Regions from separate parts of the Homo sapiens genome. Here regions 1, 2 and 4 are each linked to region 3. Evidence: fine-mapped expression QTL. A gene starts in region 3. Each other region holds a variant in brackets. All regions are shown on one strand. Distances are from middle to middle.

Region 1 (4,161 bases), 330 kb after region 3:
ACAATCTGCCACTTCTTCCTTTTAACATATAATTAAAGAGCAACATCTTATTGAAAGAGAAAAATTAATCCATTCATTCAAAATGTGTTTGTTGAACTCCTACTAACAGCAGGGCATCTCCAAAAGCTTCCTAACAGATTTACCCATGTCCCCTGAGCAAAAGAAGCCAGATGTAAAAAAAACAGAGTGGATGATTCCATTTCTATAAAATTTGAAAATAAGAAAAACTAAACTATACCATTAGTTTGGATAATGGTTATCCTTGGTGGGAAAGGGGCAGGAAGCAGCTCGGGAGAGGCAGGAGTGAGATTCTAGGGATCTGGTAATGGTTTTTTTTTTTTTTTTTTAATTTTAACTGGATACTAATGTCACAGCTATGTCCACTTTATGAAAACTCACTGGGTTGTATACTTACAACTATGAGTAATCAGTTCATGGGTATTCATCTTATTCTTCTTCATAGTTTATATGTTAAATATAGTCTTCTGTGTAGCATGTAATTTTTTTTTTTTTCTGAGACGGAGTTTCGCTCTTGTCACCCAGGCTGGAGTACAATGGCACCATCTCGGCTCACTGCAACCTCCCCCTCCCAGGTTCATGCGATTCTCCTGTCTCAGCCTCCCAAGTAGCTGGGACTACAGGCATGCACCACCACACCCACCTAATTTTTAATTTTTTGTAGACATGGCATCTCACCATGTTGCCCAGGCTGGTCTCAAATTCCTGGGCTCAAACAATCCTTCCACCTCGGCCCCCCAAAGTGCTGGGATTACAAGTGTGAGCCACCATGCCGGGCCAAGTTTCATTATCTTACAGACAGCTAAATTTAGGAGTTCATGCTTGATTTCTAATTCAAATTCAACCTTTATTACTGACTACTTTACTTATCTGGAGCCTATCCAGATAAGTCACTTAACAGCTCTCTGCTTCAGTTTCTGCACAATGGACATCCGTACACTGCACATCTGTACAATGGGGATGAAATCATCGGCCGAGGGGAGTCCGAGGCGGTGGATCATTTGAGGTCTGGAGTTCGAGACCAGCCTGGCCAACACGGCAAAACCCTGTCTCTACTAAAAATACAAAGATCAGCCAGGCATGGTGCCACACACCTGCAATCCCAGCTACTTGGGAGGCTGAGGCAGGAGAATCGCTTGAACCTGGGAGGCGGAGGTTGCAGTGAGCCAATATCGCACCGCTGCACTCCAGCCTGGGCGATGAAGTGAGACTCCGTCTCAAAAAAATAAGAAAAAAACCAGTATCTTCCTTACAGGGTTGTGAGAAAACCACCACCCTGTCCCTTTCCCTACTTATTTTTTCTCCGTGGCTCTGATCTGCCCTATGACATGTGTGATATATTTATTTGTGTATTGCTTAGTTACCATCCCCCTAATTGAAGTTTCTTAAAAGCAAGAACTTCCGTTGCACCAGTGCCTAGAACAGTGTCTGACACATGGTAGGTACTCTCTAAATATCTGCTGAATAAATGAGAAATACTAGAAAAATGCACTGAACATAAAATTGACTAATTTATTAGTTGACGTTATCATTATCATTGGAAGAGCATACCCACTATTGTTGGAAAAAATATGAAGTCACCTTAAACCTCAATGCCAAGTTCAGCCCAAGATGTTAAATTCAGATGTTCTACTCAGTGATATAAACAGAGAATAAATGTTCTGACTCACTATAATATGCGGTTGAAGAAAGAAAGGATTCTAAGGTTTCAAAAAAGGTTGAAGAATCAAGACTTTGTGAAGCATGTTGCAGACTATTAAGCAGGAAGAAAGAGTTAAGAGACAGAGGCAGGTCCATACATGACAGAAGGAGTAGGAGAAGATTGGGAGAATACATTTTGCCCCATCTTAAAGATCCGCTGGAAAATTTAGGAAGAGCCATGCAGGGGGCAGCGTTCTGGGCTGCCCACAGCAGGGCTCTCAGTAGAGGATAATGCCCTTGGGTGGTCTGAATGCCTTCTACACTGGTGTTAACTTTGAACTGGTTTAGCAACCTGAGGCCCTGGGAATATCTGGATAGGGGACTCACAAGAGAATGGCTTTGTGCAATCACAGGTATAAAGGTTTACCTCCAGCCTGGGCAACATGGAGAAACACCGGCTCTACTAAAAATACAAAAACTGGCCGGGCACAGTGGCTCATGCCTGTAATCCCAGCACTTTGGGAGGCCAAGGCAGGCAGATGGCCCGAGGTCAGGAGTTCGAGACCAGCCCGACTAACACGGGGAAACCCCATCTCTACTAAAAATACCAAAAATTAGCCAGGTATGGTGGCACGCGCCCATAATCCCAGCTACTGAGGAGGCCGCGGCAGGAGAATCACTTCAACCCGGGAGGAGGAGGTCACAGTGAGCTGAGATCGCACCACTGCACTCCAGCCTGGGCAACAGAGCGAGACTCCTGCTCAAAAAAAAAAAAGAAAA[AGAAAAAAGAAAAG/G]AAAACTGTGCCAGGTGCAGTGGCTCATGCTCGTAATCCCAGCATTTTGGGAGGCCAAGGTAGGTGGGATCACTTCATGTCAGGAGTTTGAGACCGGCCTGGCCAGCATACTGAAACCTCATCTCTACTAAAAATACAAAAATTAGCCAGGTGTGGTGGTAGGCACCTGTAATCCCAGGTACTTGGGAGGCTGAGGCAGGAGAATCACTTGAACCCAGGAGGCGGAGGTTGCAGTGAGCCAAGATTGTGCCACTGCACTCCAACCTGGGCAACAGAGCAAGACTCCATCTTAAAAAAAAAAAAAAAAACTGGCCAGGCATGATGGCTCACCCCTGTAATCCCAGCACTTTGGGAGGCTGAGGTGGGCGGATCACAAGGTCAGGAGATCGAGACCATCCTGGTTAACACGGTGAAACCCTGTCTCTACTAAAAATACAAAAAAATTAGCCAGGCATGGTGGTGGCCACCTGTAGTCCAAGCTACTCGGGAAGCTGAGGCAGGAGAATGGCGTGAACCCAGGAGGCGGAGCTTGCAGTGAGCTGAGATCACGCCATTGCACTCCAGCCTGGGCCATAGAGTGAGACTCCATCTCAACAACAACAACAACAAATACTGAGATGGGAGGATCACCTGAGTCTGGGAAGGTCAAGGCTGCAGAGAGCCATAAAATCCAGTCTGTGCAACCCGGTGAGAGCCGGGTCTCAAAAAAAAAAAAAAGTGTATCTAATTAATTTGACTACTAAGAGATGCAACCTCACTTTTTATCACAAACAGAACATATGAGATACACACCAAAAAATAGTCACAACACACCAAAATATGATTAAACATTTTTCTCATTGTTTACTTGACTTTTTTAACATTAACCCAAAGGACTGGCATAATCTCCTTTAAGTTAAACAAAAGTCCTTTTTTAAGAGAATTTTGTTTTCCCCTATCTCACAGAGAAAAAAAAAAGTATAAAGAACTTCCAATTCCTCAATTTGTGTCCTAAACCACAACTCAAAGCCACACATACTAATCATGAAATCTCATTCCTAGAGTTTTTCTTGTCTGTTTCAGTTCTTATTTCACAAACGACATTAAAATAGGGCTTTCTCCTAATCTGTTATATGACGCAGCACTTCCCACCCTCACGTTCCTGATGAACTAAAAATAGATTCAAAACAGTGAAGGCCATTGTGATTGCAGGCAGAAGCTAAGACAGGATGGGCCAAACTGTTCCTCTTATTTTTAGCAGTTTGTGGGGAAAAACACCCACAAAACACTGTTATAAGTTTAATAAACAGTCATTCTACAAAAGTGTCTTACTTTTCTACTTTAAAAAAAAGTGAATTCCAATATAAAGAAAAATAATTGGAAATACTTTCTCTTTGGGGTAGTCTCCTTGGAAAGATGACAATAACTCCTAGTTCTGTTTTGGTTTTTTTTTGAGACGGAGTCTTGCTCTGTCACCCAGGTTGGAGTGCGGTAGCGTGATCTTGGCTCACTGCAACCTCTGCCTCCCGGGTTCATGCCATTCTCCTGTCTCAGCCTCCCGAGTAGCTGGGACTACAGGCGCCTGCCAAAATGCCTGGCTAATTTTTGTATTTTTAGTAGAGTCGAGGTTTCACCTTGTTGGTCAGGCTGGTCTCAAACTCCTGACCTCAGGTTATCTACCTGCCTCAGCCTCCCAAAGTGCTGGGATTACAAGCGTGAGCCACCTGCCT
Region 2 (4,161 bases), 60 kb after region 3:
CTTGTTCCATCTTTGAAGTTCTCCTTTCCTCTCTTACTTTAGAGAGCAGACATGGTTAGCAAGAGAATGAGAGACAGTTTCATGTAGTAGTGAATATCCTGAATACCAGAGCTAAATTTCTCTGAGCTTAAGTCCTATCTCTGCCTCTTGTAACACTGATGAGTAACTTTATTTTTATTATTACTTTTTTATTTTTTTTGAGATGGGAGTCTCGCTTTCTTGCCCAGGCTGGAGTGCAGTGGCACAATCTCAACTCACTGCAACCCCCCCATCCTGGGTTCAAGCAATTCTCGTGTCTCAGATGGGATTTCACCATGTTGGCCAGGCTGGTCACAAACTCCTGACCTCAAGTGATCCACCTGCCTCGGCCTCCCAGAGTGCCGGGACAGGTATGAGCCACTGCGCCCAGCCTGATGAGTGACTTTAATTGCTCTATGCTTCAGTCATCTCAGCTAACACAGGGATTATCTTAATCTATGGTATAAAGGTAAAGATTAAATTACACAAAAACTCTCAGAACAGTGACTAACACAAAATAAACTCTCAGTGAATATTAGCTATTGTGATGAGGATAATGACTTTGGAATAGAGTTTGAATGAAATTTCACGTAAGAGAGGGAAGGGTCTGTTTTCTTACTCCACGTAGGAATACAGTTGTAAAGGGCATTAATGTGTTAATTATACTATCAGTTGCAAGGAAAACAGATCTAAATCTTAATTTAGCTACAGAAGGTATTTGATATTTTTTATGTTATTTGCAATCGAGCAACATAAGTATCTTAGGGTTTAAAGGACAATGCATTCACTTTAATAAAACTCTTATTAAGCATGCTTATTTTTCTAGGACAGAAACACTAAAACAACTCATTGCATTCAAACTGATGGAAGATTTTATTGGCAGACGAACCCACATTCACTAGGCCCACTGTAACACAGACAAGAAGGCTTGCTGCTCAGGCCGCTGTGGATGACCTCACCACTCTAGCCACGCCCTCTATTGTCTACTCTCCCCCTGCACAGCCAGTGACTTGTACCTCTTCTTATCACCCTTCCCGGGCTGAGAAAGCCAAGGTACCAGAAAAACATATGTTTGGCAAAAAGGTCCATGTCACTTACATTCTGCACATGATAAAAGGCCAGGGGACTTCCTCTGCCATTGTTTTTGAGGGGCTCCGTGGAGAATGCTTCATCATGGCGATGCAAAAAGCTTCATAAAAAAAATAAAAAGACTCGTGAACAATGCATTAAACGGTTTTATCAGAATCTCTTTCAAGAGCCCAATGTGGATCCTACAGAAAGAAGCATTCCACTTAAGCAGATTCTTTAAGTTATTTACTTTCCTTGTCAAGAACCTTTTCCATATTGCACAGAGGGCATTTTAGATTTTATTTCAAAAATGACTGAAAAATTAACTGACCCTGATCACTTAGCTATATGGAGGTATATGCAAGAATGCTTTAGAGAGAGTGAAGAAGTACATTCAATTAACTCCTCTTCCTTTGTAAAAGCTTTTTACTAAAAATAAAAACAATGTCATTTTGTACAGACAAAATTTAGCAGACTCAAGCTTCCACAGTTAGTGCGAGAGCCTGTGGATGGCATAGTTACATAAGAGTCTGTTGTGGATTCAAATGTCACCTCTTCCAGGCAGTCTTTCCTGACTTACCCTGGCAGCTTTGTGTTCCCACATTACTAGTAATGTTTTTTTCCTTAATAGCAATGATTTCACTGTAATAATGTATTTATATGCCTCTCTCCCCCAGACAGCAAGCGTTTTCCCACAGGTCTCGACACACAGAAGATACTCTGGAAAGATTTGTTAAAACAATGGGCTATATTTAGTTATTTTCACAGATAGTGAGATGTTATCGTTCTCTCTCTCTCTCTCCCTATTATTAGTCTGAAATAAAAAGAACTGCACAGTTAAAGAGGACCCAACACAAAGATTTACTGCCAGATAGAAAAATCCATCAGAAGGACACCCCTTCCATCAAGAAAAAATGGAGAAAAAGAAACTATTTTCAA[C/T]TGGGGGGACAGACAGACTGGTAATATGAACTTGTTGTCTTCCAAATTAGTTCACCCGTCTGAGAACACTAGCATGCTTTTGCCAAGTGCTCCAAATCCCTGATTCCTGTATTGCTGGCACCGCAGCATTCCTGGGGTTCCCTGACGACAGGTGAACTCATTCACAGTGCTCTGCAGCCATACCTTCCCGGCACAGGCCAGAGGAGCGACTATAAAAACACAGGACGCCTTTGAGGCTGCTTTCAACAGAAGCAACATGCCCTTTTCCCCAGAGCTAACACCAGGTAGAGATGCTGCTCTTTTTAGGAGATTGTAGGACAAAGGTCAACTCACTATTATTGTCACTTCAGACATCAGTTAACCAAATAGATGTTTTCCATAAAACGTATCAGTTGCCTGATTAGAATAATAGCAACAGTTCCAAAAAACAGATTCATCTGGTGAACACTATCCTGCCCTAAGTTTGAGGGTATGAGTGAAAACACATTAAATAGGTGAAATCAATGCTCAATGGGTAATATTCCAACAACTATGACTTGTAGCAAATGATATTAGTGGCTTACTATATAGTGATCACATTTAATTTAAATCACATTTGACTCAATTTTCTGTGATAAAACCTATACAAAAGCTTTATAAACTGCACTAGGACCCATGGGACGGCCAAGGCACATTCTGAGGGGAGAGGGATGGCAGAACCCAAAGCAGCCTCTTGGTGGCACCAGTGGCAAACTGAGGGCGGTAGGTATGGAGGGGTCACACTTCAGTCTCTTGTACTGTGGCCCTTTCCAAGTACTGAAAAGACAAATTGAAGTTTGGAGGTATTAAAACTGAAGATTCACAAAAAAATGTTTTCCTGGGGCAGTCTTGAGAAGAAAGCATCCAGAGCACAGGGTTTGAGAGGGCCGCGGGAAAGAGCAAGTCCTATGTAGATGAGAAATGAGAGGTATCACATCTTCCCTACATACTAGCTTTTTTCAGTTGATGTAGAATTTATCCTTCTTTACATTGTTTAAATTTTCCTTTTCCCGAGTATTAAATAGGCGTAATTGCTAGCTAGATAAGTCATTGCTTTCAGGCTTATTAATAAGACATTTCAACATGAAGAGGACTAGAAAGACTCATCAACAGGCTTATGTGATCAGACCCTACATTCCTGGTAAAGGGGGACCGCTCACAGCAGAGCCCTGCAGCAGGATGTGCAGCATGCTCCTCCTGCCAGGGAACCCTGTTGCATTCCAGGACAGGTTTCTGGTTCTCACTCCCATAGGAGTGATGAAAGTATTTTCCTTCAGAGACTGATCAGTCTTTGTCTCAAGAGTGTTAATCCCTCACACATGTAAAGCACTCTACAGTGCACAAGAGATGTCACCTCGGTTAGCAGCTAGCTGGGAGGCAGAGCAAAGGGGCAGCTTACTTGAACTGACAGAAGATATCTGCATACTCTGGGAGGATTCCACTGGCCTGCAACACTGTTACTCGGAAAGTGAAGGCACTGCCCAGTTTCAGGTGGTTGCCAATCTCTTCAGAAAACCCTTCCATTACCATCTTACCATCCAGCAAAGTGCTTGACTTCAAATCTAAAGAGGGTCAAATGAAGACACAGATGGTTCAAATAATGCAAAGAGGAGGGAGTTGGGCATGCTTTCCATTCCTAGTTGATGAAGGCCACTATGTCCCTTGATAATGGTCAATATTTTCCCTTTGTCGAAAATGTCCCCAAGCACAGTAAACTATGTCTACATACCCAAGTCATTAATTCGACTGATTTCTTCTGGAGGAGTGATGACCTCAGAACTCTGACCCTGTCCTTCCACAATCCTCAACTCCTCCAAGGACAGACCAGAACGAGTCATTGCAACAGACGAAAAGTCACTCTGAAAAAAAGGCAGGGGCAGATACATGGTAAAGTAGTATAAAAACGTATTTTTCCCCAGTTGCCTTACTTCTGTTTATCTGTCCAACAAATAATAGTGACTGGAAAATTATATGGACTGAGGGCTGTCTGAGGAAAGGCAATGAATAAAATATGAATATTGAGTCTATACACCTTTACCTTCATAATTGTTAGACATGTCCCATATTCTATTGAACTACTCTGTGGCAACCAGCACCCTGTATTTTTCAGTTTTACAG
Region 3 (4,161 bases):
TATATTTTTAGTAGAGACGGGGTTTCACCATGTTGGCCAGGCTGGTCTCGAACCTGGGACCATAAGCTTGTAGCTGGGACCATAAGCTTACACCACCATACCCAGCTAATTTTTTAATTTTATGTAGAGACAGGGTTTCGCCATGTTGCCCAGGCTGGTCTCGAACTCCTGGGCTCAAACGATCCATCTGAACCAGCCTCCCAAAAAGTGCTGGGATTACAGGCCTGAGCCACTGTGCCCCGCCTTAATGTTTATTGAAATGTCTGTTAGTATTCTCAGAATTACTACCACCAAAGGACAAAGTTACTTCATAAGCGCTTATCAAGTTAACCAACACTGCAACAGTTAAGCAATCATTTGGTCAGAGCTTAGCAGAAATTGAAAAAAAAAAATCTCTAGAGTTAAAAGAAGGAGAACTAAAGGAAGAAACCAAAAACAGCTGCTATCGTGGTAGCAGCTGAGAGCACAGCTGGCCTCACCAATTTCTCGATGAAATCATCCACAGCTTGCCCAGCCTTCACCAGGAGGATGATCCGCCGGGGCTTCTTCAGCTTGGAGACCATCTCTTTCAGGGACTGGGCACCCACCACTTTGGTTCCCTTTGCCTCATTGGCCAAGAAATCATCAACTTTGGAGACAGTCCTATTAAAAGCACAGACCTAGAAGGACAAAAGTCCTGAGTAGGAGATCCAGGACACACAAGACTTTCAGACTGTGGCCAAAGTAACAATGACCTTTCCATTCAACCCAAGTTCTGGGGAGGTCAGACCTGCCTTTGCCTTTTCTTCCCCCAGCTGTGGGAGGCTCACTGTAAAGTTATGTCACCTCAGTAGGATGAAAACGGCGGACAACCGAGGCGAAGGCCAACTACCCCCGGTGTGTCAGGTAGAATCCACACCCAACGTGTTAGGACTCAAAATCAAATCCAGGAACTGGCCGGTTCAACAGGCTCTATCTGTTGTTATTGATCATCCTGGCGTCTAAGCCACTTTAACATTTAGAAGAAACATTTTCACTCTCCCCAGATCTCATCAGGCAATCAAGTTAGAGCTCTACACAGCCAGCAAGGGTTCTCCTCCCGCACCCTTCTTCTCTACTTAAGACACTAATTCGTTCATTCGGGCTGTGAACCTCACGGACCCACAGGCACACTCCGCAGGACTAAGTTCGGGATCGGCCCGCCCACGCCTACAGGGTGCTTCTCCTTTCCATACAAAAATGCCACGAGCAGCAACAGAGCACATTAGCAAAGCACGGCCAGGAGACCCGTAAGCTCCCAAACCTATCGCCGGCCTCGGCTAAAGCGCCCGGGAACCAGAGAGAAGACAACGCGCCCACGCCGCTTACCACAAAGCCGTGGTCATTCATGTTCAGAATTAAGTTCTGGCCCATGACGGCCAATCCGATCAGCGCGATGTCAGCTCTAGAGAGGCAGAAACAGAACAAAGGAAAGAGTCAGCACCGCTCGACGCGCTGCAACCCAGGGGTCCGGTCCTTCCACATTTGGCCGTGACTGGGAGTCTGCACTTTCCTCCGCGCCTCCCGCGGGCCCCCAGAAGCCGGGCGCGCACGCTGCAGAGCCTCGGCCGGGCAGGCGGCCCCCAGCCCCGCCCTCGCGCCCGGCTCCCGCTGGCACGCGTCCCGCAGGTGTCCCTGCAGACTCGGCGAGGCCTGGCCGCGCCTCCTCCCTGGCCCTCGAAGGGACCCGCCCCGCCCCATGCCTGCGCGGCCGAGAGGGCAGGGGGCCGGGCCCGCAGGGAAGGAGCTCTGGGCCCGAGACGCCGTAGGGCCAGGGTCACAGAGCCCCAAGTGAGCTCAGGCGACCCCCAGGGTGGGAGGCGTCGGAGAGAACGAGGGAGATCTCGACCCCCAAAGAGTTCCCCGCCCGCTGAGGCCGAGCCGGGCTGCCCCTGGCGAGTCACTCACTGGGCCATGGCGGCGGACAGAGCAGAACCGAAGAGCGGCGACGCGCGGAGGACGAGTGAGGGAAAGACCCGCAGCGGCTCCCTCCAGAAACTGCGGCCGCTCACGCCCGGCTTTTCGGCGCCGGCCAATCGAATGGAAGGGGGTGGAGCCATGAAGCCACACCATTGGCTCTCCCCGACGCCTGTTAGACCATCCGAGGCAAACGTGCCCGCCCACCCCCGGGGGCCGGATCAGTGGAGCGCCGAGCACCTAGATGACATTGCCCCGGCGAGGCTCCGGGCTCCCCGCCCACGCGCAGAGCTTTCCGCTCGTCCCAGCTGCACCTCGGTCCTGCAGGCCGTCCGCCTGGCGCAGCTGTAGCCATAGCAACTCACGCAGGACCGCGCTTTACAGTTTACCAGGCACTCGGACGCCTTTGGCGCGAGCGCCCGTCGCTCCTTCCTCAGGTCACTGCGGTGCACCGTGCGGGTCCGCGTCGTGTCCTCCGCTCCGGAGCAGGGACCGGGCGTGCTCGTTCAGTCCTGTGCGCACTCGGAATGGGGCCGGGGAAGGCTGAGCCTCAGGGCGACCCTGATGTGGAGCCGTGCGACCGCTCACTGCGGTTGAAGAGACCCAGGCGCAGACAGCGCAGGCGGGGTATGTATTGGTTGGAGTATGATGGGGTCAGGACTTGAGTCTTTTACCCAGGCCCGGAGTTAACGGTATTGAACCCCTTCTCATTTTGTAGAGGCTATGTGACCCGCGAGATGGACCAGGTTAAATGCAGAGGCAGATACAAAAAACCAGCCATCTTAAGCCAGACATTTGCAAAGTAGCCAAGCAGCGCTTCTTATCTTACTGAGTCCCTTCTTGCTAGGAGGAAATTGTTATTCAGAAGTTTGAGTTTTAGATTTTTTTTGTTTTTTTTGAGACGGAGTCTCGCACTGTCGCCCGGGCTGGAATGCAGTGGTGTGATCTCAGCTCACTGCACCTTCCGCCTCCCGGGTTCAAGCAATTTTCCTGCCTCAGCCTCCCAAGTAGCTGGGATTACAGGCGCCCGCCACCACGCCCAGCTAATTTTTGTATTTTTAGTAGAGATGGGGTTTCACCATCTTGGCCAGGCTGGTCTCAAACTCCTGACCTCGTGATCCGCCCGCCTTGGCCTCCCAAAGTGCTGAGATTACCGGCGTGAGCCACCGTGCCCGGCCTTTTTTTGATGTCATTGTTGAGATGGAGTCTGGCTGTGTCTCCAGGCTGGAGGGCAGTGGCGCGATCTGGGCTCACTGCAACCTCCACCTCCCAGGTTCAAGCGATTCTCCTGCCTCAGCCTCCCAAGTAGCTGGGACTACAGGTGTGTGCCACCATGCCCAGCTAATGTTTTTATTTTTAGTAGAGACAGGGTTTCACCATGTTGGCCAGGCTGGTCTCGAACTCCTAACCTCAAGTGATCCACCCACCTCAGCCTCCCAAAGTTCTGGGATTAGAGGTGTGAGCCACTGTGCCCGGCCGGTTTTTAATTTTTATAAAGACCAGGTCTTTGCTCTGTTGCCCAGGCTGGAGTGCAGTGGCATGACCATAGCTTACTGCAGCCTTGAACTCCTGAGGTCGAGCAATCTTCTAGCCTCAACTTCCTGAGTAGCTAGGACTACAGGCATGCAACACCATGCCCGGCTAAGACATCCTACTTTAAAATATGTCAAACTTCACAGCACAGTTCTTTTTTTAAAATACAGATTTAATGAGATAATTTACATGTCATACAATTCAAACATTGTAAGTACACATTTGGATGACCTTTAATTTATACTGTTGTGTAGCCATCACCATAATCCACTTATAGAAAACTTCCATCACCCCAAAACGTTCCCTTGGGCCTATTTGTAGTCAGTCTCTGCTCTCACCCCCAGCCAACCTCTGATCTACTTTGCATGGTTTTTGCCTTTTCCAGAAATTTCATAGAAATGGAATAATAGCATATAATTTTTTTGGTCTGGCTTCTTTCACTTAGCATCACGTTTCTGAGGCTCATCTGTGTTGTAGGTATGAGTGGTTTGTTCCTTTTCATTGCTGAGTGGTATTCCATTAATGCAATTGTGTCATCATTTGCTTATCCATTTATCTGTTGATAGACATTTGGATTGTTTCTAGTTTGGGAAATAAATAATTCTGTTTTGAACTCATGTACAAATTGTTGTTTTCATTTCTTTTGTGTGTGTGTGTGTGAGATGGAGTCTCACTCTGTAGCCCAAGCTAGAG
Region 4 (4,161 bases), 97 kb before region 3:
CCCGACCTTGGCCTCCCAAAGTGCTGGGATGATAGGCATGAGCCACTGCACCTGGCCAGTAACTTACTTTTTTAATAAGGGGAAAAATTATTTCAAAGTGATCATCTAGTCTGGGACAAAGAATAAGATTATTTGCCTTTAGTGTAGAGACCAGGCAACTTCCATTAAGGAATTGTATGAAAAATATGCATTCAGTTAAAAACAAAAAGAATATGTATTTCCCGAAGCTTAAATGAAAAAATTAACAATAATAAACACAAAAACAAAACAACTTAGCAGTGTGTTCCCCCAACACTGAAATATCCCATTCCTCAAGGCCTGGCTTCAAGTTTCCCAAAAGCCATCCCTAAGTGGCCCTCGCCCTCCGCAGAGCTCTTCCTGCTCTGAATAACTTGGGGCTCTCTTCTACGCCCAACCAGGCAGCTCTGCACCAAATGATACACAATGTTGTGCTATTTGCTAAAATTACATACAGTCGTGTGCAGTTTGCTCTTATTTCATATGTATAAATGCCTTTTCTTCCCAAAGTAAAACACGTGAATTACTCAAGAACAAGGTTTAGTTTTATTCCTCAATTGTCTGTTCCCCATCCTCAGGCCTGAGCTGAGCTAAGCTGAGCATGCAGGAGACAGCAAATACACATGGCCTGAGAAAGCTCCCTCCCTGTGGAAGGGCTGACTGCTGTGTGTTTTCACAAACCGCAACACCACCACACTGAGCTGTGGGGCTTTCTGTGCAAGGGGGCTGCCCATCTTGTGCCCCCGCCCTGCCACACGAGTCCTCAGCGGGCTCCTCTGCCTGACACCCTCCCAACACCACTCCCAGGAGGAAGAAGCAGTTCACACAAGACCACGCGACTCAGCTGGTGCCCCCGTTTAATCAGGCTGCTGCAAATGCTTGGCCAAAAGCAATAAGGGCATGACTGAGAGACTGTGGGAGTTTAATATAAAAAATTTAATAAACAAAAAAGTGGGGGAAGGAGAAAGGGTCTACCTTTTAATAGGGCCCTAATTACCCAACTCATAGGATCAGCCCAAATGAGATGGGAGTTTATTTCGGGGGTTTTTTTAATTATTATTTTATATATATATATAAATTGCCGCTATGTGTTTTCTTTCCTCTGAGCAATTATGCAGCAAGTACGTAAAGAGGAGAAAAAATATTAATTAAATATAAGGTAATTGTGGAGTTGGCCTGGAGAGAATGAGTCTGAACTCTGGACGATCACAGGCTACTAGGGTTTGAAGACTGCTCAGGGCCTCCCAGAAAAGAAAGAAATAAAAATACAACCAACCAACAAGCAGATGCACAGTACAGCAGGAAGAGCAGGGCACAGAAACACTAGCAGAGCAAGGGGTCTGCAGGGCTCCAAATACCAGAAATCAGTGAGCTGGCCAACTGCTCAGGGCTCCCAAAGAGCTTGTCGAATCAAGCCCCAAAAGATGGACTGGCCACTCCTCCGATGACCAGTTAAATGGGTACATCAAAATTTGAAAAGAGAGAGGAAGGAAAGGACTGCAGCGGCCTATGGTGTTCAATCTGCACTTCAGTCTAAAACAACCACAACTTCGGCCTGAGGGGCACTGAGGCAGGCCCCAGGGAAGCAGGCAGACGTCCGGAGAGACTAGCAAGGTGGGGCCTCCTGGGCTTTCCCACCACCATGACCTCAAGGAAGGAACTGGGCAATACCAAAAGAGTGAAACGAGGCCACCGTGGGAGTGCTGG[G/A]ATATAAGCCCGTAACTGGTGACGTAACAGCAGGTGACATGAATGACAACACTGCTCCCCTGAAACAGTCCCAGCAGTGCTTGTATCACCTCGGCCTTTCTACAGACAGCTCAACTGGATCCAACTCGCCCTCAGCCTGGGAAAGCCTTCGTACACACTGGAATTCAGACGTGTTCATACCCGCTAAGTCCCTCACGTCATCTCCTCCCGCGACTGCCAGAAGGGGAGTGAAGCAGAACAGGTGAAACCACAGGCCCTGCTGAAACAAAGCCTTGGCAGTACAGCCCTACGCCTGCTATCGCTACGCAGGAAGAAAAAGCTCTGAAAAGTTAAACCTAGAGCTGGCTCTCCCATCAAACTTATCTGGTTTATACAGAGCCAGTCTTACTACCCAGCCAAGAGGACTTACAGCAGGCCCTGAAAAGCAAAAAAGAATGAAAATGGGGTGGGCAGCCTGGGACTCTGGCCACCAAATGAAAAGCACTTGGGAGAGAAAATTACCTGCAGTGCTTAATAGGCCTCTTCCCTATCCATAGTCTAAGAAGACAGCGTTGGGAATGACAATCACACAATTACTGACCAGGCAAAACCAGAATTCCATCGCTTACCTGTTCTTTAAAGACCACTGAGGCGCTCGCACCCTGAGGGGCAGAGCAGAGGGCGGCTACTTCAAACAATCTAGAAGCCCAGCCACCTCACTCCACCTCAGCCTCCCACGGGCGCAGGAATCTCACTAATTACTATTGATCAGCCACAAACAAAGTGGTGCAGGACCATCTGGGGTGGATGCTTTTAGTCCTAGAAAGGACCAGCCTTTACTAAGGAGAGATCTCACTCGTCCCCACACGCGAGAAGAGAAGTCAGAGGTCACTGACAGAGGCAGTCTCTAGGTAACAGCTACTTTTAAAGGGACACTACTGACGCAGAACCATAGGAACAGAAGGTTTCTTTTCACTCGCGTGGCATTTTAATTACTAGAAAGTGATACCACATATCTTGGGTACTTACCAGCGGCTCTCGAGGCAGCACATTTTCACTTCCTGGAGTAGAGCTTGGCTGCAGAGAAAAATGGAAACAAAAATAAGATCACAGTGCCACCCAATGGACATCAAAAAACCAAAGATGTTCCGTTCTCAAACGATGCACGCTGGCACCTCTTTCTCACATCTCTCACTGGTTTTTCACGACACAAGAGTATTTTGCAGTGGACTACCTGTAAAAAGTAGCCCAAAGAGTCTGAATTCACCAGGGAAGATGAAGACTGTTTCTGGGTTCACTTGTCACACCACTCCAAGAACAAGGCTTGGTTCTGCTCAGGAAGGCCCACGATCACCTACTGAGCAGCAAGGGCTGGGGACCATCCCAAAATCCACGGGAAGAGTAGAGTCCAGAGAAAAGGCCTGAAGAGAGAGCACAACACCTCCTCTTTCTGCCACCTCCCCAACGTCAGGGGACTGGGAAGAAAAGTCGCGCAGCAGTGGAGAACCAGATTCCACCACCAGGGGGCCCCAGCTGCCCACGCTCAGGATTTTCTCTGGGCATCTAGTTTCTGGAGCCCAGAAGCCAGTAAACTACACAGGTTCCTATTCATCACCTGCCACTAAGGACACCACCCCACAATAGTAAAGAAAGCCCCAGGCTTAAATCCTTCTTGGAAATAAGCTAGTGACAGGCTGGCATATAAGCAGACCAACCTCCAGGCGAGCAGGCAGCACTGTGGCCGAGGCCCTGGCTCTAGCCCGTTTCCTCTTCCTTGGGGCCACTACCTCACCCTCACAGGCGCCTTCGACCCTTGACTGATCTGGCCAAAATTTAGAGAAAGGGAGAGGCAGAGGTAGAGACAGATTCTGAAGAAATTTACAAATCTCCAAAAGAATAAAGTAAGCAGGTATGCTGCTAAGTGAGCTATGATTAGTTTACTGTGACTGATGGTCAGGCCAATTGCCATCTATCTACAGTTAATATCCAGACAAGTGCAGCAAAATCTGTGTGTCCCAGGAGACAGCCTGCAGCCTCCATTCTCCCGGCTATTACAGATCAGATGGAAGTGCCAGGCCGCCTTGGAAAAGGACAGAGGCCCGGTCTGCAGAGGGTTCCCAAAAATTCCTCATGCCCAGCTACTACCACATTAGCTGGCACACAGCACAGTGGCAAGCACTCTGCTGGGTGAAGGCCTCTATCCCTCCATCCGAAGTCCTGTCCCAAGAGCCTCACCACCCCAGGACAAGAGGTCAGCCAGCAGGAAACGATCTAGAAAGTGAGGGTCCGTCTCAGGGAATGTGAGCAAGCTTCCCCTGCCTCCCTGCCTCCTGTCCTCCCAAAGCTCCAGGCATTGGTAACTTCAAACCTTTAGAGCTCCAGCCCACACCCCTCTGAGATACACATCCGACTGCCTTCCTGCCTCTTCTTGGAGTTAAGCTGCCCTGGAGCAGACTC

Which allele goes with the higher level. Positions count from the first base shown, and alleles are read on the strand shown. Sizes are in standard deviations (SD) of each study's normalised expression. Not every link is listed here.
With allele G in place of AGAAAAAAGAAAAG in region 1, the expression in CD4 T cells of the gene that starts at base 1,988 in region 3 is higher (large effect, 1.8 SD a copy in BLUEPRINT).

Evidence for each region.
Region 1: its variant is fine-mapped to the expression of PGD in CD4 T cells (BLUEPRINT, PIP 0.95).
Region 2: its variant is fine-mapped to the expression of PGD in whole blood (TOPMed, PIP above 0.99).
Region 4: its variant is fine-mapped to the expression of PGD in whole blood (TOPMed, PIP above 0.99).

Annotation. Positions count from the first base shown.
Region 1 is chr1:10,066,629-10,070,789 of GRCh38, reverse strand. The region is part of intron 1 of UBE4B (ubiquitination factor E4B); the gene reads right to left. Among named protein-coding and RNA genes, the nearest start is that of UBE4B, 36 kb to the right of the region's middle. The variant AGAAAAAAGAAAAG/G (reference allele first, on the strand shown) is at 2,440.
Region 2 is chr1:10,336,815-10,340,975 of GRCh38, reverse strand. KIF1B (kinesin family member 1B) reads right to left here. Exons shown (of 49, transcript NM_001365951.3): 30 at 3,773-3,902; 31 at 3,443-3,605; 32 at 1,117-1,207. Among named protein-coding and RNA genes, the nearest start is that of PGD, 60 kb to the left of the region's middle. The variant C/T (reference allele first, on the strand shown) is at 2,026.
Region 3 is chr1:10,396,891-10,401,051 of GRCh38, reverse strand. PGD (phosphogluconate dehydrogenase) reads right to left here and starts at 1,988. Exons shown (of 13, transcript NM_002631.4): 1 at 1,927-1,988; 2 at 1,348-1,423; 3 at 480-659. The coding sequence starts at 1,934. RefSeq lists silencers at 1,222-1,398, 1,491-1,810 and an enhancer at 2,291-2,600.
Region 4 is chr1:10,493,894-10,498,054 of GRCh38, reverse strand. PEX14 (peroxisomal biogenesis factor 14) reads right to left here. Exons shown (of 9, transcript NM_004565.3): 2 at 2,734-2,781. Among named protein-coding and RNA genes, the nearest start is that of PEX14, 21 kb to the right of the region's middle. RefSeq lists an enhancer at 2,567-2,626 and a silencer at 3,089-3,383. The variant G/A (reference allele first, on the strand shown) is at 1,726.